Linked DNA regions of Homo sapiens. The protein of the gene in region 3 interacts with the protein of the main gene of each other region in a biochemical or structural test. Each region holds a gene or a part of one and is shown on either strand. Other genes may lie near its edges.

What was found.
Region 1: the proteins of CRHR1 (region 3) and HTRA3 interact in a test that uses a peptide from one of them, tested with the Homo sapiens proteins (one large-scale study listed by IntAct).
Region 2: the proteins of CRHR1 (region 3) and CARD11 interact in a test that uses a peptide from one of them, tested with the Homo sapiens proteins (one large-scale study listed by IntAct).
Region 4: the proteins of CRHR1 (region 3) and PDZD2 interact in a test that uses a peptide from one of them, tested with the Homo sapiens proteins (one large-scale study listed by IntAct).
Region 5: the proteins of CRHR1 (region 3) and RADIL interact in a test that uses a peptide from one of them, tested with the Homo sapiens proteins (one large-scale study listed by IntAct).
Region 6: the proteins of CRHR1 (region 3) and PARD3B interact in a test that uses a peptide from one of them, tested with the Homo sapiens proteins (one large-scale study listed by IntAct).
Region 7: the proteins of CRHR1 (region 3) and SHANK1 interact in a test that uses a peptide from one of them, tested with the Homo sapiens proteins (one large-scale study listed by IntAct).

What each region holds. Positions count from the first base shown.
Region 1 is NC_000004.12:8,283,051-8,287,177, forward strand, and holds part of HTRA3 (serine protease HTRA3 isoform 1 precursor), read left to right. Parts: intron 1-3,510; coding exon 3,511-3,733; intron 3,734-4,127. UniProt on the Homo sapiens protein: Serine protease that cleaves beta-casein/CSN2 as well as several extracellular matrix (ECM) proteoglycans such as decorin/DCN, biglycan/BGN and fibronectin/FN1.
Region 2 is NC_000007.14:3,033,729-3,037,855, forward strand, and holds part of CARD11 (caspase recruitment domain-containing protein 11), read right to left. Parts: intron 1-4,127. UniProt on the Homo sapiens protein: Adapter protein that plays a key role in adaptive immune response by transducing the activation of NF-kappa-B downstream of T-cell receptor (TCR) and B-cell receptor (BCR) engagement.
Region 3 is NC_000017.11:45,790,475-45,794,601, forward strand, and holds part of CRHR1 (corticotropin-releasing factor receptor 1 isoform 2 precursor), read left to right. Parts: intron 1-4,127.
Region 4 is NC_000005.10:32,107,502-32,111,628, forward strand, and holds the end of PDZD2 (PDZ domain-containing protein 2), read left to right. Parts: exon of another isoform or gene 1-467; coding exon 468-634; 3' UTR 635-3,431; downstream 3,432-4,127.
Region 5 is NC_000007.14:4,799,590-4,803,716, reverse strand, and holds part of RADIL (ras-associating and dilute domain-containing protein), read left to right. Parts: coding exon 1-171; intron 172-1,721; coding exon 1,722-2,064; intron 2,065-3,406; coding exon 3,407-3,546; intron 3,547-3,947; coding exon 3,948-4,087; intron 4,088-4,127. UniProt on the Homo sapiens protein: Downstream effector of Rap required for cell adhesion and migration of neural crest precursors during development.
Region 6 is NC_000002.12:205,615,554-205,619,680, forward strand, and holds part of PARD3B (partitioning defective 3 homolog B), read left to right. Parts: coding exon 1-260; 3' UTR 261-4,127. UniProt on the Homo sapiens protein: Putative adapter protein involved in asymmetrical cell division and cell polarization processes. May play a role in the formation of epithelial tight junctions.
Region 7 is NC_000019.10:50,671,160-50,675,286, forward strand, and holds part of SHANK1 (SH3 and multiple ankyrin repeat domains protein 1), read right to left. Parts: intron 956-4,127; coding exon 859-955; intron 1-858. UniProt on the Homo sapiens protein: Seems to be an adapter protein in the postsynaptic density (PSD) of excitatory synapses that interconnects receptors of the postsynaptic membrane including NMDA-type and metabotropic glutamate receptors via complexes with GKAP/PSD-95 and Homer, respectively, and the actin-based cytoskeleton.

The DNA.
Region 1 (4,127 bases), on a different chromosome or scaffold from region 3:
AGCACCGAGGCCCGTGTGGCCGGAGCGGGGAGGAATGAGGGATGGGTGAGTGAACGCACGAATCAGTGCATGGATGAGTGAGGGGAGGAATGAGTTAGTGAAGGAAGTGGCAGAATGAATGAGTGAGGGAGGGAATGAGTGAGTGTCCAATGGATGAGTAAAAGAATGAATGAATGAGTGGAGTCGGTCAATAGGGAAGCGGGATGTCCCAGCCCCGTAGAGGAAGTGGTGTGTACCGTGTGGCTTCACCCCCGAGCAAGGCCTCTCCTTGCAGATGCACAGGCAAAGCCTCCTCCCCTTCTTCCCACAGGGCCTGCCCCGGTCCCTGCCACCATCCCCAGCCTCTCCTACTTCCCCCATCACAGAGACCCTCTGAGCTGGTTTGGGGGAGCCCTGCCTTCAGAACCTCCCGCTGTGCAAGCTGCCCAATGTCTGATCGCTCACACCGAATCCTGAGGGCTCATCCCAGATTGACTTATATCCCGCAGAAGCAGACTGAATGACTCTTCTGAAGTTTAGAGTGTTTCTCCCATCCACCTTTGCTGGCCCTTTGGTCCCTGGGTGTGCACAGAGCCGGCAAACAGCCTGATGAGGAGGCCCCGGAACCAAGCCTCATTCCACCCTGATAGGGATCAGACGGCGGGTCCAGGCGGACACGGAGCCGGCAATGAGCAGTCACCAGAGGCCGCAGGCCAGGGCTCCAGGGACTTGCTTGTTTTCACGGTACTTTCCCTGAGGCCTCCAGCCTCCCTGTGACGAGGCTCCACTGCCCTAGGCCCGGCCCTGGGGACTGAGCATCTGGTGGCTCATGGGGAGATCCCAGGAGTGATTCCTGCTCCAGCACCGCCTCCCTGCTGGCTGGCTCGGCGCTTGTCTGGTCCAAGCCCCTGTCACTAGGCGTCACGGCCCCTCTGCCCTCCCCATCCCGGGCTCTCCAGCAGAGGTCGTGCTCCTTGAACAGGGGTGTGAGAGCGCGTGACGGGCATATAGCACCTCAGCATCACATCCTCCACACCTGCTGGGAGCTCCCTGGGCTGTGGGCTGTGTAGCCCATGTTTCTCAAAACAGCCCTGGAGGCACCACCCATGCAGGACCCACAGCCCTGGTTGCCACCCTGTCCGGTGCCCCGTGCTGATGGACCTCTCACTGCCCCCTTGGCAGCACACTGACCCCTCACTGCCCTTCCCTCGAGCCCCGGGCCCTGAGACATGTCATTGAGGAAATTATAACTGGATGCACTAAGTGGCACGTTGCTGGCCTTCCAGGAGGTAGGGATGGGGGCAGCATCTTTCTGGAAGGCCCCAGCCACCAGGCTCTGAACCAACTAATTACTGACTCCAGCCCGGCTGGGAGGCCGTTTCTGCCCTCAGAGCCTCCAGTGACTGATGCTCTGAGTGGGTGGGTGAGACCCAGCAAAGATGAGACAGATGCTTTTCCAGCACAGGCCTCCCGGCTGTGACCCCTGACCTGAGGTCTGAGTGTGGGCATGGAGGCCAGTGGGCAGCCGCGGGCATTTTCTGCAGACCCCGCAGGTGCCTGGCCCTGTGAGGCACCCTGGGGCTTCCGCAGGCAAAACAGGTGCAGTTCCTACTCTGGGGCACACACGGAGTGGGTGTGGCAGAAGCTGGCTGCGGATGTGAGTGGACAGATGCTGGGGTCACCGTGTGGGGTGGCCAAGTGGCCAGATGCCCAGGCTGCCTGGGGCAGACCCCTGCTTTGCCCTTTGCCTGCCCGCCTGACCTAGGCAAGTAGTTCAGCGTCTCGGGACTCAGTTTTCCCACCATAAAGACCTGAGAGTTAGGGACGACAGTAGTTTCTTGTGGCTGCCATAACAAAGTACCACAGACTGCATGGCTTAAAATGACAGAGATGTTTGCTCCCATGGTTCTGGAGGCTGGAAGTCCTAATCAAGGTGTCAAGGTCCTAATCAAGCAGGGCTGCTTTCTTCTGGGGGATGTTGGGGGAGTGTCCCAGGCCCCTCTACTGGCTCTAGTGTTTTCCGCAGTCCTTGGTACGCCTCGGCCCTTAGACCCCTCTCTCTGCTCTGTCTCCATCATCTCATGGCCTTCCCCTCTGTGAGACTGGACTTCCCTCCCTTAAAGACAACACAGACACACTCTGATGTCACCGTAACTTCAGGACACCTGCAAAGACCCTGTTTCCAAATAAAGTCACATTCACAGTCACATGGGGTTAGGACTTGGCCGTATCTCTTGGCAGGGATACAGCTCACCACAGCACCCCCCTTGCAGGGTGCCCATGAGCATTCAATGGCCTGCCTGCCTCAGAGGGAGCACAGGGTGGCATTCGCTGCCATCTCTGGTCCTGTGGGTCACAGCGAAGCTCCTGTACTTTGCAGAGACTGTCACCTCCCTGCACGTGCCAGACGCTCCCATCCCTCCATGCTTTGTCTCTTGCTCTCACCTGCCTGCACGTGCCAGACGTTTCCATCCCTCCATACTTTGTCCCTCGCACATTTTCCTTGCTCATCTCTACTAAGCAGCCTCAGGGAGTGAGTACCTGCTCTGGGCTGGGCCCCACGCTGGGGTCCCGAAGGTTCCCACCCTGGAGAAGGTCCCAGGCTGTGTCTGGCATTCAGCCTCCTCCCCTGCTGGATGTGGGGCTGTGGTTTCTACTCAGAGAGCTCTGGTGAGAACTGGGGATTGTTGCCCATCGGCAGACACCAATGCAAACCCAGGCCAGCTCCACACCGTTCACAGAGGGCAGGGCCCAGGCTGGCCTCATCTGTGCCTCTGCACCCCTGCCCTCGGGGTGTCCAGGGCTCGGGTCCTGCATCTGCCTGCTGCCAGCACTGCCACATTTGGGGCTTTAGGCAGCTAGCCTGGGGGTGAGGGTAGAGGGAGGTGGGAATAAGCCTTCTCAGCCCTCCCAGCACTCACCCTGTCGGGATGATCAGGAATCTGCCCCAGCCTCTGGGGAGCCTCCCTTCCTGGGTACCTGCTGCAGCCCTGCAGGATGCTGTGTGTGCAATGGGGCTTTTCCCCTAGGGCCAATTATTGTCCTGTTTGTTGAGAGGCGTTTTAGAGCCCAGGCATCACCACTCGGCGGAGGAGGTGTTGTTGTCCCATTTCCCAAATGGGGAGACCAAGGCTCAGAGAGCTTCACTGACCTGCCCACGGTCAGGCAGATAATAAGTGGGTCCTGGACTTGGGATTAGCATCCTGGTCTGTCTGGCTCCGTGCTCCGTAGTCAGGATGGCGAGTGCAAGCTGGGAGTCATCTGACATGTCGCAGGCAGCCTGTCTCATCTCAGCAAATTGCAGCGAGAGGTGATCATCATCACCTCTTTATGGCTGTGAATGGGTGCAGGCGCCGGTGACTTGGCCAGGTCACAGGGCCAGGATTCAAATGGGAGCTTGAGGGACTCCAGACCTGTGTTCTGTCAGCCACACACTGGCTCTGCTCCTCGCTGACCAGCCCCACCACTGCGCCTGACTCCCCCGCGTCCTAGCCCCACCCTAAATGCCCGCCTGTGTCTCCCTGGCTGCAGACACCCGCTGTTTGGCCGCAACGTGCCCCTGTCCAGCGGTTCTGGCTTCATCATGTCAGAGGCCGGCCTGATCATCACCAATGCCCACGTGGTGTCCAGCAACAGTGCTGCCCCGGGCAGGCAGCAGCTCAAGGTGCAGCTACAGAATGGGGACTCCTATGAGGCCACCATCAAAGACATCGACAAGAAGTCGGACATTGCCACCATCAAGATCCATCCCAAGGTGGGTGGGCGTGGGTGGAGGGGCGGAAGCACCTGGGGCTGGGCATGGTGGCCTCTTCCCAGACGCCGGAACCCAGAGGCAAGCTAGCCCCACCTTCCATCAGCCAGGGGGAGGAAACTGGGCCCAGGGAGGACTGGCAGCTGGCCCAGGGTCACGGCTTGGAAAAGACCTAGAACCCAGGTCTTTGGACTCCTTGTCCTGCGCTCCCTGAGCCGCTAGGTGCAGGGCAGAGCCAGGAAGCATGTGGCCCACAGTGGGTGGGCTGTGGTCCCATATCACACCCCACGGAGGCTCTTCACTGTCTTACCTGGGCCCACTACTGGGGATGCACCTGCCCCATGGGATGGCATCTGGGTTTGGGCGTGGAGGCCAGGGGGCTGCCGTGGGGAACACT
Region 2 (4,127 bases), on a different chromosome or scaffold from region 3:
AGGATCATCATCTCAGGCACAGGGCAGGGCGAAGTGCCAGGCGCAGAGGCAGGAGGCCCTAGGCAGGCGGAAGGGGGAAGTAGGGCCACCAGTGCAGTGGGAGGAGGGCCTCCGAGGCCCATTAGTCTGACTGCCACAAGACATAAGGTTGATCTTTAAAATATATTTTAAAATTACAGCTGGGCACGGTGGCTCATGCCTGTCATCCTAGCACTTTGGGAGGCTGAGGCGGGCGGATCCCCTGAGGTCAGGGGTTCGAGACCAGCCTGGCCAACATGGTGAAACCCTATCTCTACTAAAAATACAAAATTAGCTGGGCATGGTGGCACACACCTGTTATTCCAGCTACTCAGCAGGCTGAGGCAGGAGAATTGCCTGAACCCGCGAGGTGGAGGTTGCAGCGAGTTGAGATCACACTACTGCACTCCAGCCTGGGCAACAAGAGTGAGACTCTGTGTCAAAGAAAATAGAACTGTATATATATAATTACTAAATTATATATATAAATTATATAAATAGATATTATACAAATATAATTATACATATTATATACAATTATATATAAATATATAATTATACATATAATTACATATATAATTTTTTAAAAATAATATGTATATATGTACAAATTACTTAAGAAAGATACAGGGCTGGGCACGGTGGCTCACATCTGTAATCCCAGAACTTTGGGAGGCTGAGGCTGGAGGATAGTTTGAGTCTAGGAGTTCGAGACCAGCCTGGGCAACATAGCAAGACCCTCATCTCTACAAAAAATAAAAAAATTAGCCGGTCATGGTGTCACATGCCTGTAGTCGCAGCTACTTGGGAGGCTGAGGTGACAGGATTGCTTGAACCCAGGAGGCTGAGGCTGCAGTGAGCTATGATGGCACCATTGCACTCCAGCCTGGGCAACAGAGCAAGACAAAATTACAGCAAACTTCCACATAAAATGAGTGAGGAGACACGGTGACCCGTCCCCGGCGCACAGACGGCCTTCTGCTTGTACCGGAGCTGGGTCCTTTCCCCACTAGGTCATGCTCTTCGCCAGTCTAAGACCTCCCCGGGCTCAGAACACTCGGAACAGGGCCCGGTAAAAGGCCGTCCTTTAAGAAGGAGGAGAAACATTTTTCAAAGATCGAGAACTCTCCTACGAAGAGCCAAGAGCCTCTGCGTGCCTCAGGGACTCAAACGGGGATCACGGTGCCTGTTCACTGGCAAACAGGGACCCCCATGTCAGCTCGCAGAGGCTCTCCGCAGGGTATCAAGCTGCTTCTTGAAACGCGTCTGAGAATTGAAGTCAGGAGTCTTGGAAGGCGGTGTGAGGTATCGTTATTATTCTGCTGAACGTTTCCCCCGGAACCAACGATACCTGAATCCCTTTAAAAATAGGCCATTTCTTCTTAGAAGATTTCCACGAATCACATAATCCTTACGCAGAGGCAGGCAACGAAGCACTAATGTCAATAACGTTACAGTTTTACTTCACAGCAGCATTTATCCACTGACATAGCAATTTACTAAACCGCAGAAAACGCCGGCACAGGGCCTCTGCTTGCCCTTGGATTTTTTTTTTTTTTTTTTTTTTTTTTTGAGATGGAGTCTCACTCTGTCACCCAGGCTGGAGTGCAGCGGCGCGATCTCGGCTCACTGCAGCCTCCGCCTCCCGGGTTCACGCCACTCTCCTGCCTCAGCCTCCCGAGTAGCTGGGACTACAGGTGCCCACCACCACGCCTGGCTAATTTTTTTGTATTTTTAGTAGAGAGAGGGTTTCACCGTGTTAGCCAGGATGGTCTCGATCTCCTGACCTCTTGATCCGCCTGCCTCGGCCTCCCAAAGTGGTGGGATTACAGGCGTGAGCCACCGCGCCCAGCCCTCCTTGGATTTTTTAAATTTCAGAGACAAGGTCTCCTTCTGTCGCCCAGGCTGGAGTGCAGTGGTGCAATCACAGCTCACTGCAGCCTCTACCTCCTGAGCTCAAGTGATCCTCCCACCTCAGCCTCCTGAGGAGCTAGGCCCACAGGCATGACCACTACACCAGCTAACTTTTACATTTTTTGTAGAGATGGGGTCTTACTATGTTGCCCAGGCTGGTCTCAAACAACTAGGCTCAAGCCATCCTCCTGCCTCAGCCTCCCAAAGTGCTGGGATGATAGACATGAGCCACTGTGCCCAGGCTGCTTCCAGATTTTTTTTTTTAAAGGGCCATCACCACCAAGACACGTATAAGAATGTTCACAGTGGTTTCATCATAACAGCCCCAAACTGCAAGCAACAGAAACATTTATCAACGGTCAGGTGGATAAGTAAATTGTGGTAATTTTTTTTTTTTTTTTTTTGAGACAGGTCTCACTCTGTCACCCAGGCTGGAGTGCAGTGGTGCGATCTTGGCTCACTGCAACCTCTGCTTTCTTGGGCTCAAGCAATTCTCCAGCCTCAGCCTCCCGAGTAGCTGGGATTATAGGCGCAAGCCACCAATGCTTGGCTAATTTTTGAATTTTTGTAGAGACGGTTACATCCTGTTGCCCAGGCTGGTCTTGAACTCCTGAGCTCAAAGCAATCTGCCTGCCTTGGCCTCCCAAAGTGCTGGGATTACAGGCATGAGACACAGCGCCTGCCCCTATTGCGGTAAATTTATGCCATGAAATACTGTGTAGCAATGAAAAAGAAACATTGAATGTGACTCCGTCCACGTCAAGTTCAAGGACAGGGATGGTGATAGAGGTTGGAAGGGTCCTCCCTTAGGGGACAGGGGAGGGGTAACGACTGGGAGGGGATATGGCACTTCCCCAGAACCTAGAAAGGACCCAAATCTTGATCTGGGTGATTGGCTCCAGAAGGGCATGTGAAGGCCCGTCAAGCTGTTTGTACGCTTAAGACTGTACTGTGTGTGTGTTATACCTTAATTTTTAAAAATTATTATTATTATTATTACTGATGGGCAATCAGTTTTACCTTTCTTTTTTATTTTATTTTTAGAGATGGGGTCTTGTTCTACTGCCCAGGCTGGAGTACAGTAGTGCAATCCTAGCTCACTGCAGCCTCAAACTCCTGGGCTCAAGTGATCCTCCCATCTCAGCCTCTGGAGGAGCTGGGACTACTACAGGTGTGTGTCACCATGCCTGGCTAATTTTTTAAAGTTTTTTTGTAGAGGTGGGATCTCACTATGTTGCCCAGGCTGGTCTCGAACTCCTAGGCTGAAGTGATCCTTCCACCTGGGCTTCCCAAAGTGTTGGGATCACAGGTGAGAGGTGCCACGCCTGGCCTATCAAACTTTTTGATGTTTGCCAGTCTGACAGGTGGAAAACGCTATGTCCCTGTTGTATTACTTCACATGGATTTAATTACAAACGAAGCATGCTGACTGACCTGCTCATATTCCGTGTGTTTGTACCCTTTCACCATTTTTTCCATTGGTTGAATTCTCTAATTTTGGGGTCTGGACACTCCCACTGAGGGTCCAGTCCTGTGCCATCCACTGTGCCGAAGGTGGCCATACTCACTCCCAACTGCAGCCGCCTCCACCCCGCAAGGACAGAGTTGCTAGCTTCGACAGAGACCCTCTGGCTCACAAGGCCTAAAATATTTACTATTTGGAGCTTTCGAGAAAAAGTGTGCCAGTTCCCATGTCTCATTGGTTTACAAGAGTTCTTAGTAAATTAAGGAAATAGCTCTTTGCCACATATACTCTGTTTTGCATTTAGCTCATCTCTCTCTGTTCTCCCTCCTGGCCTCTGAATAAGCAAGTCAGAAGTAAAACTTAAAAGCAGAAGCCTGCAGAACCCCTTGACACATTTGGTGCGTTTGGAAACACTTTGGTCTATGCTAATCTAGGGGTGGTATCATTATTATTATTAATTTGTGATAGAGTCTTGCTCTGTTGGCCAGGCTGGAGTACAGTGGCACAATCGTGGCTCACTGCAACCTCTACTTCCCGGGTTCAAGTGATTCTCCCGCCTCAGCTTCCCGAGTAGCTGGGATTACAGGTGCTCACCCCCATGCCTGGCTAATTTTTGTACTTTTAGTAGAGACGGGGTTTTGCCATATCTCAAACTCCTGACCTCAGATGATCTGCCCGCCTCGGCCTCCCAAAGTGCTGGGATTACAGGTGTGACCCACTGTGCCCAGCT
Region 3 (4,127 bases):
TTTGGCAACTGTCCACCCAGCAGCCATAAAACTGTTTCTGGGACAAATGAAGATGTTTGCGGCTGTTCTTTCTGCCCTATAAGCACAGGCAATTTGTCCATCTCACCCGCCTGGCACTGTTGGGCCCAGAGAGAAGCCTCAGCGAGGTGCTTTGAGATGGGATTTGTGGGGTGTGCATCTGCCCCCCTCCGCATGTCAGCTGGTTTCCAAGCCCCAGCCAGTCTGGTTGGGAGCCAGTGCGCCTAGGTCAGAGCCCAGAAAAACTGGCTAGACTGGTCCAGTCACTTCGTGGCTGCAGAACCAGGGAGGCAGGGCTTGTTCTAGACTGACCGCTATACTTTAGAGTCTACCCACTGGAGTTTTAAGAGGTAGTGGGGGCTATCAGGAAGCACAGTGAGAATCTTAGTTGAACCTTTGAGTGCTGGGATGTCAGGGGCTTTAGGAGAATTGGGACAATATATTGGTCATCATCCCTGGTCAGTACCAAAGCCCACAGAGCTGAAAGGCACCTGCCCAGGGTGAAAGGCTGGGACAAGTGATGGCCGCAGCATTGCCATTTCCAGTGGGGAGTGCCCTCCCTCTGTGATCCATCCACCTCTCCCTCCCTGTTTTCCCAGCCTCTTTGGCAAGGTGTGTGAAGGGCTCATTTCTAGAAAGCCCTTCCTAGCTCAGCAGAGGCCAGAGGTACCAGGCTGGGTGGGGAGCCTGTGCACAGAGACAGGGAAAAGGAGTGTGGCTGGGGGACAAGGGGCTGGGCTGGGTGGGCTGGAAAAGCAAACCGGGTCCAGGCGGGGTTTTACCCTGGGGAAAGGGCTTTAGGAGAGTCCAGGGCCATCTGAGGCACAGTCCTTACAGGTCCAGGCCCCCTGCACTGGGGACCCAACTGCACTCAGAGCACGGGCCTGGCAGGGTGCCCAAGGGCTCGCTCAGGGTGGATGATTTCACTCTTACGGAAGATGCGGAGACAGACAGACAGTGAGAGAAGCAAAAGGGGAGGGAGAAGAAAAAGACCTGCCTGCCTGCCTTGGTCATTCTTGCTTTTAACTTTCTCCCTAGCATCCAAGAGAGCCTATGCCCGGGTTCTGAGGCCAGCGGTGGCATCTCCTGGAAACTTCCTCTCTGTTTCTCACAAGAATTCCTCCACCCATCCCTATCCTGGTGCCTGGGTGCCCGAAGCCGTCCTCAGCTGTTAGGAGAGCCTTCGGCGCAGAGATGCCCCAGATGAGCTCCCGCCATGATCCCTTCCACCACCCCCAGGGCTGCTCCTCCTCCCCAGAAGCAGGGTGCAGAAGGGACAGGATCTGTTGCCTCTGTGGGCCTGTGTGTTTCTCAGTGGGCATTTTTTTCTCTCTCTCTCTTTCTCTCTCTCTCTCTCTCTCACACACACACACACACACACACACACACACACGCTGGTACCCTGGCGAGTGAGCTACTTTGCAGTGTTTGTAACACCCGCACCTGCCACCTCCCTCAGAAGCCACTGTGTGGTCACCACCTCTCCTCTGAGCATAGCCAGACCTGTACGGCAGGTGTGCAATGCCACCTCAAGGCCAGGGTTAGAGGCTGACTTCCAGAGGAGCAGCTGGGCACCTGGGGACCACGGGCTTAGCTGGGTGAGTGACTAGCAGGTTAGACAGCCTCCCCGGCATCCCTCAGCTGCCCGTGCCTGGCTGGGAGCCCGAGAGACTCAGCCACTCCTTCATCTTCCCAGACGGGTAGGGCAAGGCTGGTCCTTGGAGGGAGGCTGGTCCTTGCGTCCTGGGCTTGGTCTTGGTCTAAGCCACGCCCTTCCCCTTCCTCTTTCTGCCAACTCTGCTCCTGTCCCTTGCCTACGCCTCCCAGGTTCTTTTAAGCAGGTACACTGTTTACTGGCCAGGTGCGCCATTTACTGAGCTGCTGTTGCACTAAGGCCCACACAAGTGACCCCATTGAGTCCTCCCATCCCCTTCTAGAGGGGAAAGAACCTGATGCTCCCCTAATCTCTTGCTCCTCACTCCTGGCCCTCTGCCTGAGTCGCACTGTTCTCCTTCCTCCCCTGCCAACCCCTACCCAGCAGAATATACATATATGACACTTCTCTTACAGGAGCTTCTGCCCCCAAGTCTTTCTGTGCCAATCTTCATCTGTCATGTCCACCAAAGTCTTCCTGAACTGGCCCCACCTCCTCCTCCAGGAAGCCCTCCAGTCTAAATCTGTCTCTCACTGGTTGTTCCTTTGTTCTCACCTCATCCCGTCCCCTGGTGTGAGCCTCTAGCTCATCGTGGATCCTGGGCTGTCCCACAACATGGGGTCTTACAGCTCTTTGATGTATCCCCCCACAGGGGGCTCAAAAACACCTACTAACCAGATTCCACATGGACCCCTGGTGACCCACATCTAACCTGAGCCCTTGTTCCCACCGTAGACTATGAGCTCTGCCTAGACCAGAAAGATTCCCTTACAAAACAAAACAAAACAAAAAAATAACAAAACCTCTGTGTGCCCAGAACTTAGTCCAGAACTGTGCACACAGTAGGTGCACAGTAGATGCTGAACTAAATGGAGGGTCTCTCCCTGCTCCCACTCCCCAATGAACGTCTGTCTGAGTGTGGAAGTGCTATGGCGACAGAAGACACAAGTGGCAAGCCAGACAGATAGGTCCCTCTCTGCCTCCGCGTGTGGATTTGTGACTCAACGGCTTATCAAGGGCTACGCGGCAGCGCGGCTTAGTAACATTAAAAGATTCCAGCACTGCCCTGTGTTCCGCCTCCGGTCCCCATAGCACTGGGGGCGTTGTCCACGTGCACGCAAGGGCAGCATGTTGCTTCATGAGCGGTTCTGGACAGGGATGGTGGGAGATGTTGCTAGAGGGAATTGTGGCCCTGGGCTTAGAAACAAAGGGGCAAGAAGGTCTCAGAAGCTGGGGCCTCCAGAGAGCAGGGTCAGGGCACTCTAGCCTCCAAATGGGGACTGGGGAGGCGGCCTAGGTGGCATCCTGGGGTTCCCTCCCTGGTGCTGTCCTGGTTCTGCTGGTCATGAGGCAGGAGTAGCCAGGCAAGGCAGGGGCGCCAAGAGCACTGGCATTCCTGGTACCTTCGTGAGATCCCGTCCGTTGGCATCCCACCCCTCCAGCTCCCTGTGAGTCGGTGTGGGGGTGCAGCCTGGGGCGTCTTTTCTCTCCTGATGGCTGGGGCCTCATGGCCTGACTGTGGAAGCTGCTGCAAGGCTGTGAAATGCAGGGCAGGGGGGCCTAGGAGTGGTGGGGCTCACATGCACCCTGGAGGAAGGACCACTGTCCCTAAAGCTGACAGGGCAGGAGACCTGGGGTTGGAGCTGACTCAGCCACTTCTTGGATGGGTGACCTTAGGCAAATCACATGACCTCTCTGGACCCTTGTGTCCTCTTTACTGGACCGACCACAATGCAGAATGAAAGAGGAAATGCCTGTGCTGCTGCAAGGGGCCTGCTCCCACCAAAGGCCAGTGAGACCTGCTGTTTTCATGGGTGGGAGTCCCACCCCAGGACTCCCCTCAGAACTAAGCCCAACTATCACTCAAGACCCGCCTCCTCCATGAGGCCTTCCCTGGTGAGCCAGGCATCACACTCTGTCCTCCAGCCAAAGCAGGGCTCTCAAACCAGCTGTGGGGAAGGACCACATGGATTTTTCCAATCCATGGCCAACTGGCGTGTGGTCCTGCTGTGTAGCCTGCACCACGTGATTCACCTGGCAAGTCTGACAGCATCTGAATTGGTCTAGACCCTGTTTGACGAGATGAGTCTTGACTGCATGCTCGGATGTCACCGCAGGGATGGATTCACATGAAATGCTTACTCTCCAGTTTTGTACTTCTCAAGTTGTAGACCAGGAACCAATTGTTGGTAGGTTGGCAAACTTGACCAGTCGGACCAGTCCTCACCACCCTTTGAATAGCACGGGCCTAAAGCCCTCCTTTGGGGCCAGAATTCACTGCCTGGCCCAGATCTCTGGTTCACCCTTCACACAGCCTGCCCCTCCTGCCATGCTTCTTGCACTTGTGTGTCTCCATTGCATGGATGTGAGTGATGTAGTGGCTCTTTCTGGCAGCCAAGGCTGGGCGACGGAAGAAGGAAGAACCCTTGTCCAGGAGGAGGAAACTCTTTGGTTT
Region 4 (4,127 bases), on a different chromosome or scaffold from region 3:
GAGCCAAAACTGTACCACTGCACTCCAGCCTGGGTGACAGTGTGAGGCCGTCTCAACAACAACAAAAAAAGTTGAACCTGCTTTTCTGTGTTTACTGGCTGTTTGGAGTTCAGCTGTTGATTTCCTTACCCCAACTTTATTTTGTGTTATTCTTGTTGACTTGTAGCTCTTTAGTCTGGATGTTAACCATTTGTTGATTAAATACATAGAGAGTATCTTCCCCTTGTCAGTTTATTTTTATCTTACAGATTATGTTTGGAGGGGCGGCAGGAGGGCTAGAGTTGCACTGTTTTCTGTAGACCAGTTTACTTTTATGGATATATGCTTTTTGTGTTCTAAGAAATATTTCTCTATTCAATAATATATTATTTAGATATTTTTATCACTTAAAAGTTTTTAGTTTACTTAGGATTTTTGAATACTATGAAACTGCCAAGCTATTAATTATTCTGTGTTTATTCTCGTAGGTGGTGCGGCTGAACAAGCTGGAATAATAGAAGCTGGAGATGAAATTCTTGCTATTAATGGGAAACCTCTGGTTGGGCTCATGCACTTTGATGCCTGGAATATTATGAAGTCTGTCCCAGAAGGACCTGTGCAGTTATTAATTAGAAAGCATAGGAATTCTTCATGAATTTTAACAAGAATCATTTTCTCAGTTCTCTTCTTTCTTTAGCAAATCAGAGTGACTTCTTTAAACCACAGGTTGTTGAAATGGCCAACACTGGTACAGACACGGACTATAAAAATCTCCAAGCTTGTGCTTACACATGAAGCCTGACTTAACTGTATGTGCAACAGCAATGAAATTAACTCCAGAAGCCTTCCACCTGCGTCACCCAGGCCGGGAGGGTTCCTTCGTTCCAGTGCCTGTCCCCTACCTTTATGTTATGTTTACTGATGGGGATACAAGATGTGACACACCCTTCTTTATTTGAAACAAACAAACATTTAGCTAGACCTTTGCTTCCTTCTTGCCAGCTCTCCCAACATACCCAATCCTGGTGATCAGGGAACTAAAAGTCTGAGGGGGACACAAATGTCACACCTAAGAGGACAATCAATCATTTTGTATGATTTTGTAAGTAAATGACAGAATGCTTTTAGGCACATTCAATGGAAGGAGGAGATGTAGGTCTGTATATGTTACCCTGAAAAGAGAATAAGACTTACTTAAAAAAATGAATTATGACCTGTTAGGCTGAGCTCAGGAATTGTCCAAAAAGGAAAAAGCAAAATAATTAATTGAGAGTATTTTTTAGTGAGTGTAATGTATAATGTACGTATGCAAAGTTCAACTCAATAGGTTATTGATCACCATGAAGTATTGATCATTTTCTATCTCAAAAGTGTAAGCCATAAGGCTGTTTTACAGAATAGCACTTCTGATAAGCTGTATTAAATAGCCATGAGCTTCACTGCTTAGAGGGAGCAGAAAGGTCAACATCTAAAAGCACCTTACAACTAGTTTTTGAACCTGTCTTGATAAGTGCTTGAATTCAAGACTGGTCAGTCCAAGAGCAGACAAAAATATCACAAGTCAGTCAGTCACTGGGTTTCCATTTCTGAATTTTATGCACTCCAACCATGAATTTAAACTAAATTTTTAGAAATCAAGTATCTTTCTAAGTGTCCTTGGATTTATAGACAATGTATGTACAATCCAAATAGAGGAGCTTAATGGAATCCTTTTAGGAGACTGGTTGGTTTTTTTCCCTCTTTCCCAACATGTTTAAGAAATGTAACATTCTAAGTATTGGATCTCTTTTCTTGACCTAGTATAATGACAACTGCAGTGACTTAAGTTTTTGCTGTTTTCGTTTTCCCGCTTTGCAATTTCCTCCTTTTGCCAAAAATGTTTTCCTACAGAAGACTGTCGTGACTCACGCTACTTGGGAAACTCACTCTGGCCACTCCTCCTCTGGTGGCATGAGCTGCTTCCCAGTAGCTATTCCGATTGGATATTCCGTTCGTCGTCACATAGCTGGCTTTTCTCTCCTCATGATGTACCTTATTTTCTTAGGTAAATAATTCCAAACTCTCATCGGGTCATAAAGAGGAGGAGAAACAGGGTGAGTCAAGGTAAAGGAGCAGAAATGTAGTTACAAGCCAGGTCGTCTTCAGTGGCACAAACCAACCCGTTGAGCCCTGACAACATGAGTGGAGAGTGCATTTGCCATACCTGTGTGCATGACACTAAGATTTTATGTTGGAGATACTTCTTTAAATAACCTACAGCTTGGGTCTATGGCTGTGACCCCCAGATTCATGGAGGGGCTTTAGCCATCAGCTTTGTACATCATCATTTTTCTGAATGACCAATCCCACTAAACATCTTTGAAGTCGGCCTAGAGAGGTCCTTCAGATGAGAGAGAAATAGCTGGCTTGTCTGAGTCCAGATTTCTCATCAACTGGCAATACAAAGGAAAATATGGTACAGGAGTTAGTTAGAAAGGTCTTATTGATTTTACTTCTACTTTTCACTACAGTTACAGGTAGAATACTGTAGGAAGTCAGTGCAAGGTGCATGCTTGATTGATAGATATTGATTGATTGTTTTTCAGTCTCTGGGGTCAGTTTTGTGGTTTCTGCTTTCTTGCCTAAATCAAAGACTATTTCAAGTCAACAACACTGAAAACTGCTTTTCGCCTCCACTCTTACAGCTGTGCCTAATAATAATTAATTAATAAACGCACAGCCCTATGTGAACAGACAGGAATTTCTTGTGCAATGTGGAGCAAATGGAATGGTCTCCTTCCGCAAGTCTTTTTAATCCTCATATCTGGAGTACAAGGGTAGACCTCTGGCTTACCACATACACTATGCTAAAGTCATCAGCCACTGCTACTACATCTTGCCAGAAGGTTTCCCTCGCCAACAAACAGTTGAAATTTAAGGGAAGAAGCAAAAGCTAAACTGTCTTTGACCCTAAGATAGATAGAAAGCTATTTATTTGTCTTCAGTGTTCAAGGCATGACTAGTATTTCTAATTAGCCTAATAAATTCCCACACTTTCTGAAGTGAACACTAATGGTATTGTCCTACTAAAACTGTCATTGTTTCTTTTTTTTTAACTGGTCAGTCATTCACAATAAGCTATGAGGGTAAATAAATATGTGTTATAACAAGTAAACCGTAGTTGCAAGAATATACCATGAAGATTAAAGTAGGCTGGGTTTCATTTCCATCTTCCCACACATCTCATTGAATTTGATGGTTGACTTAATTGGCACCATAACTTTGTATGATATTATACATTAACCTTTATTTATGTAAAGTAAAATGCCTTATATATTAAAGAGTAAGTGCAATAATATGAAATAGCCTGTACATTTTAAAAATGTTGTCACCAAGTTATATAAATCCACATCTCTGTAAACAACCTTTTTTAAGTAATTTTAAAAAAAATAAACACTCTGCTTACTACTTGATTTTTTTTTTCTCTTTTGGCTGTTTGTTTGTTAATAATAGAGTAATATTGAGATGAGAAATGTTTATTGTCACCTAAATGCATCAGAGGTACAAAGGCAATAGAACTCAAATTAGCCACCCTTTTCCAGGCCACACTCACAATCTTGACACAATCCAAAACTTTTCCACCTCTAAATCTTTCTTACAATTGAACATCCTACTCTTTTACCACACGCTCCCAGCCTCCTGGTCACTTCCTCCCACGTCTTCACTTTCAAAAAGCCCTTGACAGTTTTCTCCCTATCAGAACTCCACCCTTCCATTCCCTTCTCAGACCAGAACCCTAGCGTAGCACAGCAAACTCTGCCCAGCCCACAGGCTTAGATCCCTTGCCCCACTGTTGTGTCTTACCAGGCGATTCTGGACCCTTCCAAATAGCCAGCATCTTGGTTCCTATAACCGTATTCCTAGAGGAAAATCCCACAACTAGACAGAACGCTGCTGCTGTAAATTCACAGTTTCCAGCCTTAACTGGACCCTCGCTGCCACTCAGCACTTGTTTCCTTGTCAGTTTTTCCTCTCATTTTTCACAATAATGTTCTTTTTCTCAAAAACCCTACCCATTCACCTTCCCCCTCCTACTTGGATGATCTGGGATCCTACCTCACAGAGCTCAATAAAAAGCATCTACTTGGCCAGGCGTGGCGGCCCATGCC
Region 5 (4,127 bases), on a different chromosome or scaffold from region 3:
GTCCTGCCCAGCGACGGCTTCCAGGTGGACTTGGAAGCCAACTGCCTGGACGACAGCATCTACCAGCACCTGCTCTACGTCCGCCACTTTCTGTGGGGTCTGCGGAGCAGAGCCAGCCCCGGCAGCCCTGGCAGGCCTGGCAGTGGGGCCTCCCAGCCAGTGTGCCCCGAGGTACCCGGGGAGGGGGCCCCCCAGCCAGCGTGCCCCGAGGTGCCCGGGGAGGGGACCCAGCCAGCGTGCCCCGAGGTGCCCGGGGAGGGGGCCACCCAGCCAGCGTGCCCCGAGGTGCCCGGGGAGGGGGCCCAGCCAGTGTGCCCCGAGGTGCCCGGGGAGGGGGCCACCCAGCCAGCGTGCCCCGAGGTGCCCGGGGAGGGGACCCAGCCAGCGTGCCCTGAGGTGCCCGGGGAGGGGGCCACCCAGCCAGCGTGCCCCGAGGTGCCCGGGGAGGGGGCCCCCCAGCCAGCGTGCCCTGAGGTGCCCGGGGAGGGGGCCCAGCCAGTGTGCCCCGAGGTACCCGGGGAGGGGGCCCCCCAGCCAGCGTGCCCCGAGGTGCCCGGGGAGGGGACCCAGCCAGAGTGCCCCGAGGTACCCGGGGAGGGGGCCCCCCAGCCAGCGTGCCCCGAGGTGCCCGGGGAGGGGACCCAGCCAGCGTGCCCCGAGGTACCCGGGGAGGGGGCCCCCCAGCCAGCGTGCCCTGAGGTGCCCGGGGAGGGGGCCCAGCCAGAGTGCCCCGAGGTACCCGGGGAGGGGGCCCCCCAGCCAGCGTGCCCCGAGGTGCCCGGGGAGGGGACCCAGCCAGCATTCCCCGAGGTGCCCGGGGAGGGGGCCCCCCAGCCAGAGTGCCCCGAGGTGCCCGGGGAGGGGGTCCAGCCAGCATTCCCCGAGGTGCCCGGGGAGGGGGTCCAGCCAGCATGACCCGAGGTGTCTGGGGAGGGGGCCCCCCAGCCAGCGTGCCCCGAGGTGCCCGGGGAGGGGGCCCAGCCAGCGTGCCCCGAGGTGCCTGGGGAGGGGACCCAGCCAGCGTGCCCCGAGGTACCCGGGGAGGGGGCCCCCCAGCCAGAGTGCCCCGAGGTGCCCGGGGAGGGGGTCCAGCCAGCATGCCCCGAGGTACCCGGGGAGGGGGCCCCCCAGCTAGAGTGCCCCGAGGTGCCCGGGGAGGGGGTCCAGCCAGCATTCCCTGAGGTGCCCAGAGAGGGGGTCCATCCAGCATGCCCCGAGGTACCTGGGGAGGGGGCCCCCCAGCCAGCGTGCCCCGAGGTGCCCGGGGAGGGGGCCCAGCCAGCGTGCCCCGAGGTGCCCGGGGAGGGGGCCCAGCCAGCGTGCCCCGAGGTACCCGGGGAGGGGGCCCCCCAGCCAGCGTGCCCCGAGGTACCCGGGGAGGGGGCCCAGCCAGCATGCCCCGAGGTACCTGGGGAGGGGGCCCCCCAGCCAGCGTGCCCCGAGGTGCCCGGGAGGACAGGAGAAGGGTTGGAAGCTGGGCTGGGGGCAGCAGGCGGGAGCTCTGGGAACCCCGGGAGTCCTGGCCCAGCGCAGGCTGTGCTCCGGATGGCGGGGAAGCCCCTTTGCCTCTTGCGCGTCTCAAGCTGCACAGGCTGCGGGAGTCCTTTGCTGACCTCTGCCCCGCGGCCTGGCGGCCCTTCTGCTGCAGGCTGCCCAGTTGCCCGAGTGCTGTGTCCACCTGGCCACTCCTCTACCTGAGCTGTCACCCTTCCTCTCCCTAGGGTATGCACCACGTGGTCCTTGACGGGCACCTGGAGGCCCCGAGCTGCCCCCTGGCTCCCAGGGACCCTGGCCCAGCAGCCCGGGAAGTGGCCCCGGAGCGTACTCTTCCCTTGAGGGGGGCTCCCTGGGCACAGGCCCCCCCTGGAAGGCAACCCAGCCGTGGGGGCTCCCAGGCTGGCCCCCCGCACACGGACTCGTCCTGCTTGCTCACGCCTCCCAGCACTCCACTTGGCCCTGAGCCTGGGGACCCCGACTGGCCAGAGTCCGGCGGCCCCTGTGGAAAAGCGCTCCCAGAGAGGCAGAGGAACGGACTCAGCGGCCTCCGGGGTGCAGCTCCGGAAGGTGAGCCCTGCCTGGTGCTCAGGCGGGAACCCACCCCAGACCCCGCACAGCACCCTGATGGCCGGTCCCCTGGGATCGTTCCCCCCTTGGGTCCTAGGTTTCCTTACCTGCCCCACAGACACCTGCAACCTGAGACGGGGCCAGATGGAGAGGGCTCAGGGCTGCTCAGCCCCCAGCAGCTGGGCCACACGGTCGCTCAGTCGCTGACACGTCTTGGGCAGATACTCACTGTGATCTGGGAGGGAGAGAGTCTAGAAAGTGGCTCAGAGTCACTCCTGCACTGGGCAGAGGAAGGGATGGCTGAGCCAGTGGAGAGGATGTGCTGAGGGGGAACCCAGGGGTCTTCAGGGAGAAGGTGGAGCTGGAGTCCTCCAGGGCAGGGCCTGTGTGTGCCTGTGTGCTTGTGCGTGTGGATATGTGTGCTCACAGGTGCATGGGTGTGCTGGTGCGTGTGTGCATGGGTGTGTGCATCTGCATGGGTGTGTCTGCATGGTGTGCATTGTGTGTGCATCTCTGCATGGGTGTGTCTGCATGGTGTGCATTGTGTGTGCATCTGTGCATGGGTGTAAGTGCACGTGTGCATGGGCATGCTTGCACATGTGTGCATGGCTGTGAGTATATGTGTGCATGAGTGTGTGTGCGCAGCTGGCCTAGGCTGGGGAGGGCATTGAGGGTGAGGCAGCCCCAGCCGGCCCTGGCCTCCTGTGAGGGGCTTGGGTGTGCCTTGCAGGAGCGAAGTGTCCTGGGTGCGTGTGCAGAGTCAGAGTGTCCCCTGTGGCTTGGGGCCACCTGGCCAAGCTGGGTCCCAGGCAGGCCACTTGCTCAGGTGCACAGCTCATCTCTGACCTAAGTGCACCCACGGCAGGATCACCATTATGGAGAGGGCACCAGCTGGTGGCCCTCAGGGCAGGTGCTTGGGCTGGGCTGGGCTAGGGCCTGGGGCCCCGGTCTGGTCAGCGGTGGGAACCCTCAGGGTGCACATGGCCACATCTGGGTGTGGAGGGAGGAGGAGGAGGAGCAGAGATTGCTGAGGAGGTGGCACAGAACCGCGTGGGTCCCTGGAGCTGGAAAACAGCCGCCCCCAGAGGGGCGAGTGTCCTGGGACTGCCAGGGGCGGGGACTGAGGTGCTCCCTCAGGGAACATGGGGGTGTCGCCCATGGGCGGACCCCGACCCTAATGTCTGGGTTGCCGGTCACATTCTGCCTGAACAGCGTCTCCTGGGAGCCACAGGAGGCCATCCCATCCCTGACGCCCTACAGAGGCAGCCAGGCCAGGACATCCCATTCCTCGTCGTGATTCCTGGCGCCTCACTCCCACCCACCTTTCCTGGCCCCCACCCAGGAGACTCTGCAGCCCTTGCGGAGGAGTCCCCTCCAGCCCCGTCCAGCCGCAGCTCCAGCACCGAGGACTTCTGCTACGTCTTCACGGTGGAGCTGGAACGAGGCCCCTCCGGGCTGGGGATGGGCCTGATCGACGGGATGGTGAGTGGCCCAGGACCCTCGCCGCACCCCCATACTGGCTGCCTGGCCCCGCCTGTTCATGCAAGCCTGGCCGCAGCTTGCGTGGCCACGTGGCTACAGGAAGGCCTTCGGGGAGGAGAGTGGGGTTGGCCTCTGCAGCTGGGAGGGGAACCCAGCCTGTCCAACGGCCACGCCCCCTGGGCCTGCTGTCTCTTGCCTCTGTCCTCAAGCCTTTGGGGTCTGTCCTGGGCCTGTGGGGACGGTGGTGTCCACTGCTTTTCTGGAGGGACGCGTGAAACCATGAGTGGGCCTGGCTGGATGCCAGGCGGGGGCCTGTAGGTGCCAAGGGAGGGGCTGCAGTGGTCCTCGCTGGGGACAGCCAGTCGGGCCTGCGGAGCTCTGAGGCCTCTGCTTGTCCCCAGCACACGCACCTGGGCGCCCCCGGGCTCTACATCCAGACCCTGCTCCCGGGCAGCCCCGCAGCGGCCGACGGGCGCCTGTCGCTGGGGGACCGTATCCTGGAGGTGAATGGCAGCAGCCTCCTGGGCCTTGGCTACCTGAGGTACCCCCACCGCATGCACGCCCGGCCCCTTCTCCCAGAT
Region 6 (4,127 bases), on a different chromosome or scaffold from region 3:
ACCCTCCCAAAGGGAGCTATCCCCGCCCCACAGAGCTCAGGGTGGCAGATCTCCGGTATCCTCAGCACTACCCACCCCCGCCAGCTCCCCAGCACAAAGGACCCTTTCGACAAGACGTTCCGCCTTCCCCTCCCCAGCACCAAAGAATGCCAGCCTATCAGGAAACAGGCAGACCAGGGCCCCGTGGGGGCAGCCCAGACCAGTACCCTTACCGAACCCAGGATTCCCGGCAGAAGAACCCCATGACTGCAGCCGTATAGCTGAGTGCCACCGAGGCCAGCCCGGTCCAGAAAGGAAGGTGTCTACTCTACCTTTGCCCTTTCTAAACCTGAAGACCTCCTTGGTGTTAGGAATTCTCCATGTTACTGATAAGCTTTTTCTCACTGACATTGTAACGCATGACTGCTAATCAGAGAGAAAAAGAAGGGGAAGGGAATTGGGGAGGAAAAAAAATCAGAAGGAAGACGAAAGATGGGGCTATAAAAACAAAACTACCTGATAGTTGAAACGCTTTCAGAGTTGTTCAAATCAGTGAGAGTGGCAACGGAACACACAAACAACTAATTATGGAACTCTACTCTGGGGATCCTCTCTGGCTAGATAACCTGTGCTGATGTGCAGACACGTGGACATCCCCCTCTGAGACTGGCGGTCCAGAGGCAGTCTCTGCCAGGCAGCATTACCCGCTCCGAGGTGGAGCCTCAGCCCCCTTCTTAGAGCTGTTAAGTCTAAGGTGTGGCAGAGCAGACAGAGATAGAGGCATCTGAAGTGAGTATAGGTTTTTTGACTAAGAAAAAAAACAACAGCAAACATGACTAGTGATCTTGAAATATTTTGTACCGAGAGAAAGACTGCATTTATTTGTAGAATTTATCAGGTTTCTGATACCACTCATTGGATGTAAACATTTCATGTTTCCTCACTTTTGATATGAAAGTCGGTAAAATGCAGTATTAGTCCCGGGAGGATGTGCACAGCTGGTCAGAGCTTCCAGAAGGAATATCTTCCGAGGACTAAGGTGATCAGGTTAAGAGGGTTCAACATCCCACGGCCCTCACCTTCCTCCCTCCCACATTCCAGGCATGGAGATATCTGGTTTCAGAGTCAGCCCCAAATCTCCTGCCTATAATTACTTTAACTGGGGTCTCTAAGGTTCCCACTTGAGGGCTAAAATGTAGTTGGGAAAGAGGGCCTACTGGGGAGGTCTCACAGGAGGCAGTGCCCTGGGAAATGCCAAGTCCAGACTCAGTGCCAAGCAGTAACCATCTGCACTCGGGGACAGCGAGGAGCTGACCATGGCCTCTGATGACCAGCAGGTATTAGATGGAAGTGAATGAGAGAGAGAGAGAGAGAGAGTATGTGTGTGTGTGTGTATGTGTGTGTTCGAACACATATGATTGCCAGTATGGAGAATGAAAGATTAATAATGCTTTCTGGAGAGTTTGATGCAAAAGTGGGGGAAACGGAGAAAAGGCGCTAAGGCTAAATCCATCTGCATTTGCTATATTTCATTAGCTAAAGTCAGGTCAGGGCAGGGCCAAGGCCTCCAATTGGCAAAGGACAGTGTTATGGCTTTAAAAAGCTGAAACCCCAACCTCTAAGTAGATCACAATGTTTTCTGAGCTTTGCAGTAATTTTCTATGGAAACTAAAACCTCTAAAACATACAAGCTGGCCCAAATGAGAACACAAGCAAAAGATGTGGAAGACAGCAAAACCTGAGCACTGGTTTGAACCAGGCACTGACATTTGAAATGCTTTAAGCCTTTTCACATTCCTTCTTTATTCCCTCCAAAAAAAAAAGTCTTGAGTTTAATTTAGGTCTATTTTGGCTGAGATTAGCATACCTCTGACTCACAGGATTTAATAAATTATAGTATTATTGAATACATAGGACATCCCTCTACCCCAGCTTACTCTTATCTTTTTAATTTAAAATAGTATTCTGCTACCAAGAAGGATGCAACTGCTAGTTTTAGATGTAAATAGTGTTATTTACTGGACTTTGTGATATTATTTTCTTAACTACACTTTACTATGGCCCTGTTGAAAACAGACTATCAAGTTTTTTGTCTCTGTTCTGTCATCTCTCTTAAGCCAGGCACCTTTAGAGTGTTTGCAATTTGTTCGAAGTGGTTGAGGATCTCAGGCCCTGCTCACGTGAGGTGGAGTGCAGGGGAGCTACCGGTTTCCCTGCTGACCTGCTGAATGCTACCTTCCCCTCGAGTTGAATACACCTTAAGGAAAATGATAACACGAGGGACGTGTAACTTGTTTTGAAGCATTAAAAACCAGCAGCTCTTCACTATGTTCCATATTTTAACCAAACTACTGTAGACTACTAAACATAGCCAAGCCAGAACATTCCTTCTGGATTAAGCCTAGGCCACTTGAGGGGCAGCCAGGGGTGATGGTGTCAGGTGAGAATCCTGTGTCTTGAAGGAGTGGCCTTTACAGGAAGAGTGCCCATGTTTTCACCTGCAGCGTTGCCACCAGAGTGTGCAATACCTCCTGCACACAGGCTCAGGGTAAACTGCTCCAAAGCTGGGTTTTGTGTTGCATACAAAGTCAATAAAATAGTTGCTAATCCTGAATGGCAGCCAGTGATGTGAAGGTACTATTAAAGTGAACAAAAACTAGATTGCAACAGTTTTCTTTCCTTGCTTGAAGTATAACACACGCTCCATTTGATCCTGCCTGAAAGAAGCTAACATTATATTTGTGACAGACAGAGGCTCCATCAAGCCAAGCAACAATTAACAGCTCAAGTGTAAGATTTATAAATGCCCGTGTACTCACCCTTCAATTGTTACCACCCAGAGGTTACAGGACTCTTTCCCAGCATTTAGGGGAACAGGCTTTTAGAGTATTTAGAAGACCAGGCTATAATCAGTAATGTGCCTGGGAGCAGGAAATAGCTCCCAATTTATTTATGGCCTTGGGAAAACTCAATCCGGTGTCTCCTTGTAGCTCAGAACACTAATAGCCCCCCTGGAAGAGAGTGGCACATTGAGCTCCAAACCCAATCAACATACATCCACTTGGCTGCAGATCTGACTGCTGGGTCATGAAGGCCGTGAAATGATGTTTGCCCTCAAGTCACTAGATATTTTAAGAAGCCCTATTTTTCTCCCTTTTTGCAGGAGTAGAGAGATGAAAGAGGACAGACCATTGAAAACTTTTAGATGCAGGAGAATTGAGACTTCCACAAGGGAGAGAAACACAGCCTCCCCAGAATCCATTATGCCATCGGGTTGTGGCACTCTCACCCTTGCCATAATACCGTTTCCTAACAATATCAAATCAGTGGATGAAATACAAGCTCAGAAACAGGAACATTTTCCTAAATCATAACCTAATAGCAAACAAAAATTGAAAAAACAATTATTCTGAAGCTCATTATTCTTAGATCTGTAGATATATATGTGTTGACTCCCACAGGATGGCACCAAGTAAAGATCTTAAGAGCATAGTAGGGGTTCTGAGACCGACTGTCACCCGTGGATCCTGATGGGGAAGAACAGAGGCTTCACTGTAGCTATAGTTTTCCACCAAGTCAATCAAATTAAAACATGACTCATTGTCCCCTCCAAAGATTCATAAAATTCTTGAGCTAAAGTGATCTTCTGAAGAAAAGCCACCTAACAATGTTAGGAGGCTCATAAAGCTCATTTCTCTTTTCCCTGGTATGCACAAATATCAAGCCTATAAAAAAGTAATTATTTCCCCAAACCTGTAACCACTGCATTCGTTTTCTTTGGAGGAACATTGTAGCATTTCAGGAGGGTCGAGAGATCTAAAGAGTTTGGTCTGAATGTGTGTCTGTACAATTCCCTTTGGCATTAAACTCTGAAACCTACAATCAATGGCCTTCAAATTGGTGTTAAATTGGGAGAACACCCTACTGCTTTCTGAGTCTACGAGCAACAGAAAGACTGGTCTTAGTGCAATTAGGCAGGAGGGATTTGGACTCAGAAACAGCCACAGAAGTATTTCTCAGCACTCCCAGTTCCTGCCAACTTAGCTGGAAACGATGCCACAGCGAGACCAGAAAGAGGAGTCGCCTTAAGGTATCCCTACAAAGTCACCTTTCTGATAAAAAGGAGGGAAAAAAAAGTTAGATATCTA
Region 7 (4,127 bases), on a different chromosome or scaffold from region 3:
CTCCATTATTTTTTTTCACTCTTTTTTTTTTTTTTTTTTTTTGAGACAGAGGGTTGCTCTGTCGCCCAGGCTGGAGTGCAGTGGCACGTTCTCGGCTCACTGCAAGCTCTGCCTTCCGGGTTCACGCCATTCTCCTGCCTCAGCCTCCTGAGTAGCTGGGACTACAGGTGCCCGCCACCACACCCGGCTAATTTTTTGTATTTTTAGTAGAGATGGGATTTTACCATGTTAACCAGGATGGTCTCGATCTCCTGACCTTGTGATCTGCCTGCCTCGGCCTCCCAAAGTGCTGGGATTACAGGCGTGAGCCGCTGCGCCCGGCCCACTCTTTTTTTTGTTTTCCATAGCACGTACAACTGCTAACATACTAGATAATTTTCTTGCTTATTTTCCTTATAATCCATTATCTGTCTTCCCCTGCTATAAGGCAAGCCCATGAGGGCAGGAACCTTTAGTCTGTTTTATTCGCTGACGTATCCCCATTCTAGAACAATTCCTGGCATGTGGGGAGCGCTTGGTAAACACTTGTAAAATGAATGAATGGATGGAATCGGGTATAAGAGAAACAACCAGAAAGCTGTAGCGGGGGCTTTAGCTCACTGCATCCCCATTCTCCAGATGTAGAGCCAGAGGCCCAGAGAAGTCAAGCCACCTGCCCCAGTTCACACAGCTGGGAAGGAGGGGAGCCAGGATTCATGGCCAAGTTCACCCATTTCCAAAGCCTGAACTCTTAACCCAATTTGATGAAACTATGGTCTCTCTGGGAGCACAGAACATTTCCAAGTCTGCTTGCTTTTCCTGAACTGTCACGTTCCTGGCCTCCCCCAGCCCCCACATCTCTTCTTCTGGGTGGCATACCGATAGATTTTTGCCGGAGCATCAACCCAGGTCCTGGAGGCAGGAAAGAAGGACGCTCGTAACTTGGCTGGGCACGGTGGTGGGGATCGAAGCTCGACTTTGGAGCGGCAGTCAGAGGGGGAGAGAGAGAAAAGATAGAGAGAGATCAGTCAGCGCAGAAAGGCTTGTGGCTTCACTATACGGCTGCCCCCATTCCTTCCCTAAGCCCCTGCCGTAAGGGAGAGCAGTGTGAAGACGGTGGAAGGAGGCCGGGCAACGTGGCTCACGCCTGTAATCCCAGCACTTTGGGAGGCTGAGGCAGGAGGATCACCTGAGGTCAGGAGTTCAAGACCAGCCTGGCCAACATGGCAAAACCTCGTCTCTCTACTAAAAATACAAAAATTAGCCAGGCATGGTGGCAGGCGCCTGTAATCCCAGCTACTCGGGAGGCTGAGGCTTGAGAATCACTTGAACCCATGAGGTGGAGAGGTGGAGGCTACAGTGAGCCAAGATCACACCACTGCACTCCAGCCTGGGCGACAGAGCCAGACTCTGTCTCAAAAAAAAAAAAAAAAAAAAAAAAAGAAAAGAAGGCGAAAGGGAATTCTGCGGGAATGAAAAGCCTCAAGTCTGGGCAGGAAGGAGAAAGAAAGGAGAAGAAAGCAGATTTTCCATCGACTCTTGATCTGCTTCCTTCCTCCAGCCACTGCCCACATCCAGGTCCCCACCAGTGTTCTCCGGGATGGAGCAGCCTCTTCCCTCATCTCCCTGCTGCCATCCTTGATCCCCCACCCTGTTCCAGTCTGTTTTCCACACAAGAGTCAGAGGCATCTTTCAAAAAGCATGCTATTGCCCCTGCTTGAAATCCCATGTCAGTTAGGAGGAGATCAGAGGGGACCAAACTCCCAACTCTGGTCTACAAGACCCTCTATGGCAGGCACTGCTGGTGCCCCTGCAGCTGCCCTCCCCCTGGATGCAGCATCCCATCCCTCACCCACTGCTGGGAGGGTCACCTGCCTGCAGCCCTTAAGAATCACCCTCCTTCAGAGTCCTGGACTCGCCCAGTCCGTTATGTGTCCCTGCTTCCTGGAGCAGCCCACAGCCCACGATGGACGGATACGGAGGCCCGAGGCAGCACTAAAGCCGGGGTGCCCAGCCTGACCCCATGGGTTCCCACTCCAGCGTGAACCGTGTCTGCTTGACTTCCTTCCACAACCCCAGCCAGTCTCCCACACTCCCTGAAGGTTCCCCCGTAGCAAACCCTTGGTACAGGAATCCCCACCTCCGGCTCCCGTTCTAGGGAAGCCCACACGAAGACAGGTCCTGCAGGCGGGACCCAGCCCTGCCCCCATTTCCCACTTGCTCCCTTGGTCCACCTCCACCCCCACCTCTTCCTTCTCCTCTGTCAGCCCCAGGTCTACCCTCATTGGAGAACACCTGCGAGCCCTGGTTCTCTCGGCAACAGCTTTCCCTCTTATTGTCACAGTTCCTTTTCAGCGCGAAGTTCTCCTCGGCGAGACCTTCCCCGGCCCCCTACCCAGACTGCACTTCCCTCTGTCCCATTTTCTTCACAGCATCTCTCTTCCCCAGAAACCATCTTGTTTACTTGCTGTCTGTTTCCTCCACTAGCCTAGAAACTCCCTGAAGGCGGGGCTGATGTATCCCAGGCATCGCACCTACAGTGTCTAGGGCCCATGATGCTTTTAGGGGAAGTGTTTTCATTTCTTTTCAAAGTAGAAGTGAAAGAAAAAAAGAAAAGAGAAAATTGTACCCTGGATAATATCGGTCTTTGCAGCAACAAAGTCATAAAATTTAAACTTTTTTTTTTTTTTTTGAGACAGGGCTGGAGTGCAGTGGCGTTAACACGGCTCACTGCAGCCTTGGCCTCCCGGGCCCAAGCGATCCCAACCCCAACCTTCTGAGTAGCTGGGACTATAGGCAGGCACAATCACATCCAGTTAATTTTTAAATTTTTTTGCAGAGGCGAGTTCTTGCTATGTTGCCCAGGCTCATCTCAAATTCCTGGGCTCCAGCGATCCTCCCACTTTGGCCTCCCCAAAAGTTCTCAGATTACAGGCATGAGCCACCGTGTTGGCCTATTTTTTTTTTTTTTAATGCAGAAGGGCAAAAGTGCCTAAGGTTCATGGAAGTCATTATGAAACCTGCCTGAGGGTAGGGTAGTGACTTTATCAGTCTCCTTTCCTACTGAGTCCCCGGTCCCCGCATAGGGCCTGCTGTTCTACAAGCAAGTGTTAGATGAGTAACAGGGAGAATCAGCCAAGGTCAGGCACTTCGGGGCCCTGACTCCCCAGCTTCTGCCAGGTCACCCCATGTGTCTCCCTTCTCCATCTTTGAGACCAGAAGTGCAGAGAAAGGGAGCCCTCTCGGAATGAAGTTCGCACCTTTGGGATGAACCCTTACTTCCTGCACTTCCCACTATACCCCCTCCTGCCTCTTTCCTCCAGCCATTCACAACCATTCCCAGTTCCCTCGCTTCTCACTTCCGAGACTCTGCATGGAGCATCCTTTCCCTGGGCTCTGGGCTCTGCTTGGGAAAGCTCTGTTATCTTAGCCCTCCACCCTGGCCCGGCTACCCGCTTCCTTTAGGCCTGCAGTGCCCCCCTAGAGCAGCCACTAGCCATTCAACTGTACATTTCAGGCCAACGTGGTGGCTCATGCCTGAAATCTCAACATTAGGGAGGATCGCTTGACCCCAGGAATTTGAGACCAGCCTGGGCAGCATAGGGAGACTCTGTCTCTACAAAAATAAAAATTACAAAAATTGCTGGGCACGGTGGCTCATGCCTGTAATCCCAGCACTTCGGGAGGCCAAGGTGGGCAGATCACCTGAGGTCAGGAGTTCGAAACCAGCCTGGCCAACATGGTGAAATTCCACCTCTACTAAAAATACAAAAATTAGCTGGGAGTGGCGGCATGTACCTGTCATCCCAGCTATACAGGAGGCTGAGGCAGGAGAATCACTTGAACCCGGGAGGCGGAGGTTGCAGTGAGCCGAGATTGTGCCACTGCACTCCAGCCTGGGTGATAGAGCAACACTCGGTCTCAAAAAAAAAAAAAAAAAAAAAAAATTAACCAGGCATAGTAGCACATGCCTGTCATCTTAGTTACTTGGGAGGCTGAGGTGGGAGGATCACCTGAGTGCAAGAGTTCAAGGCTTCATTGAGCTATGATTGTGCCACTGCACTCCAGCCTGGATGACAGAGTGAGACTGCGTCATTAAAGAAACAGACCAACCAAAAAGACAAGTGTAAATTTCAATTAATTAAAAT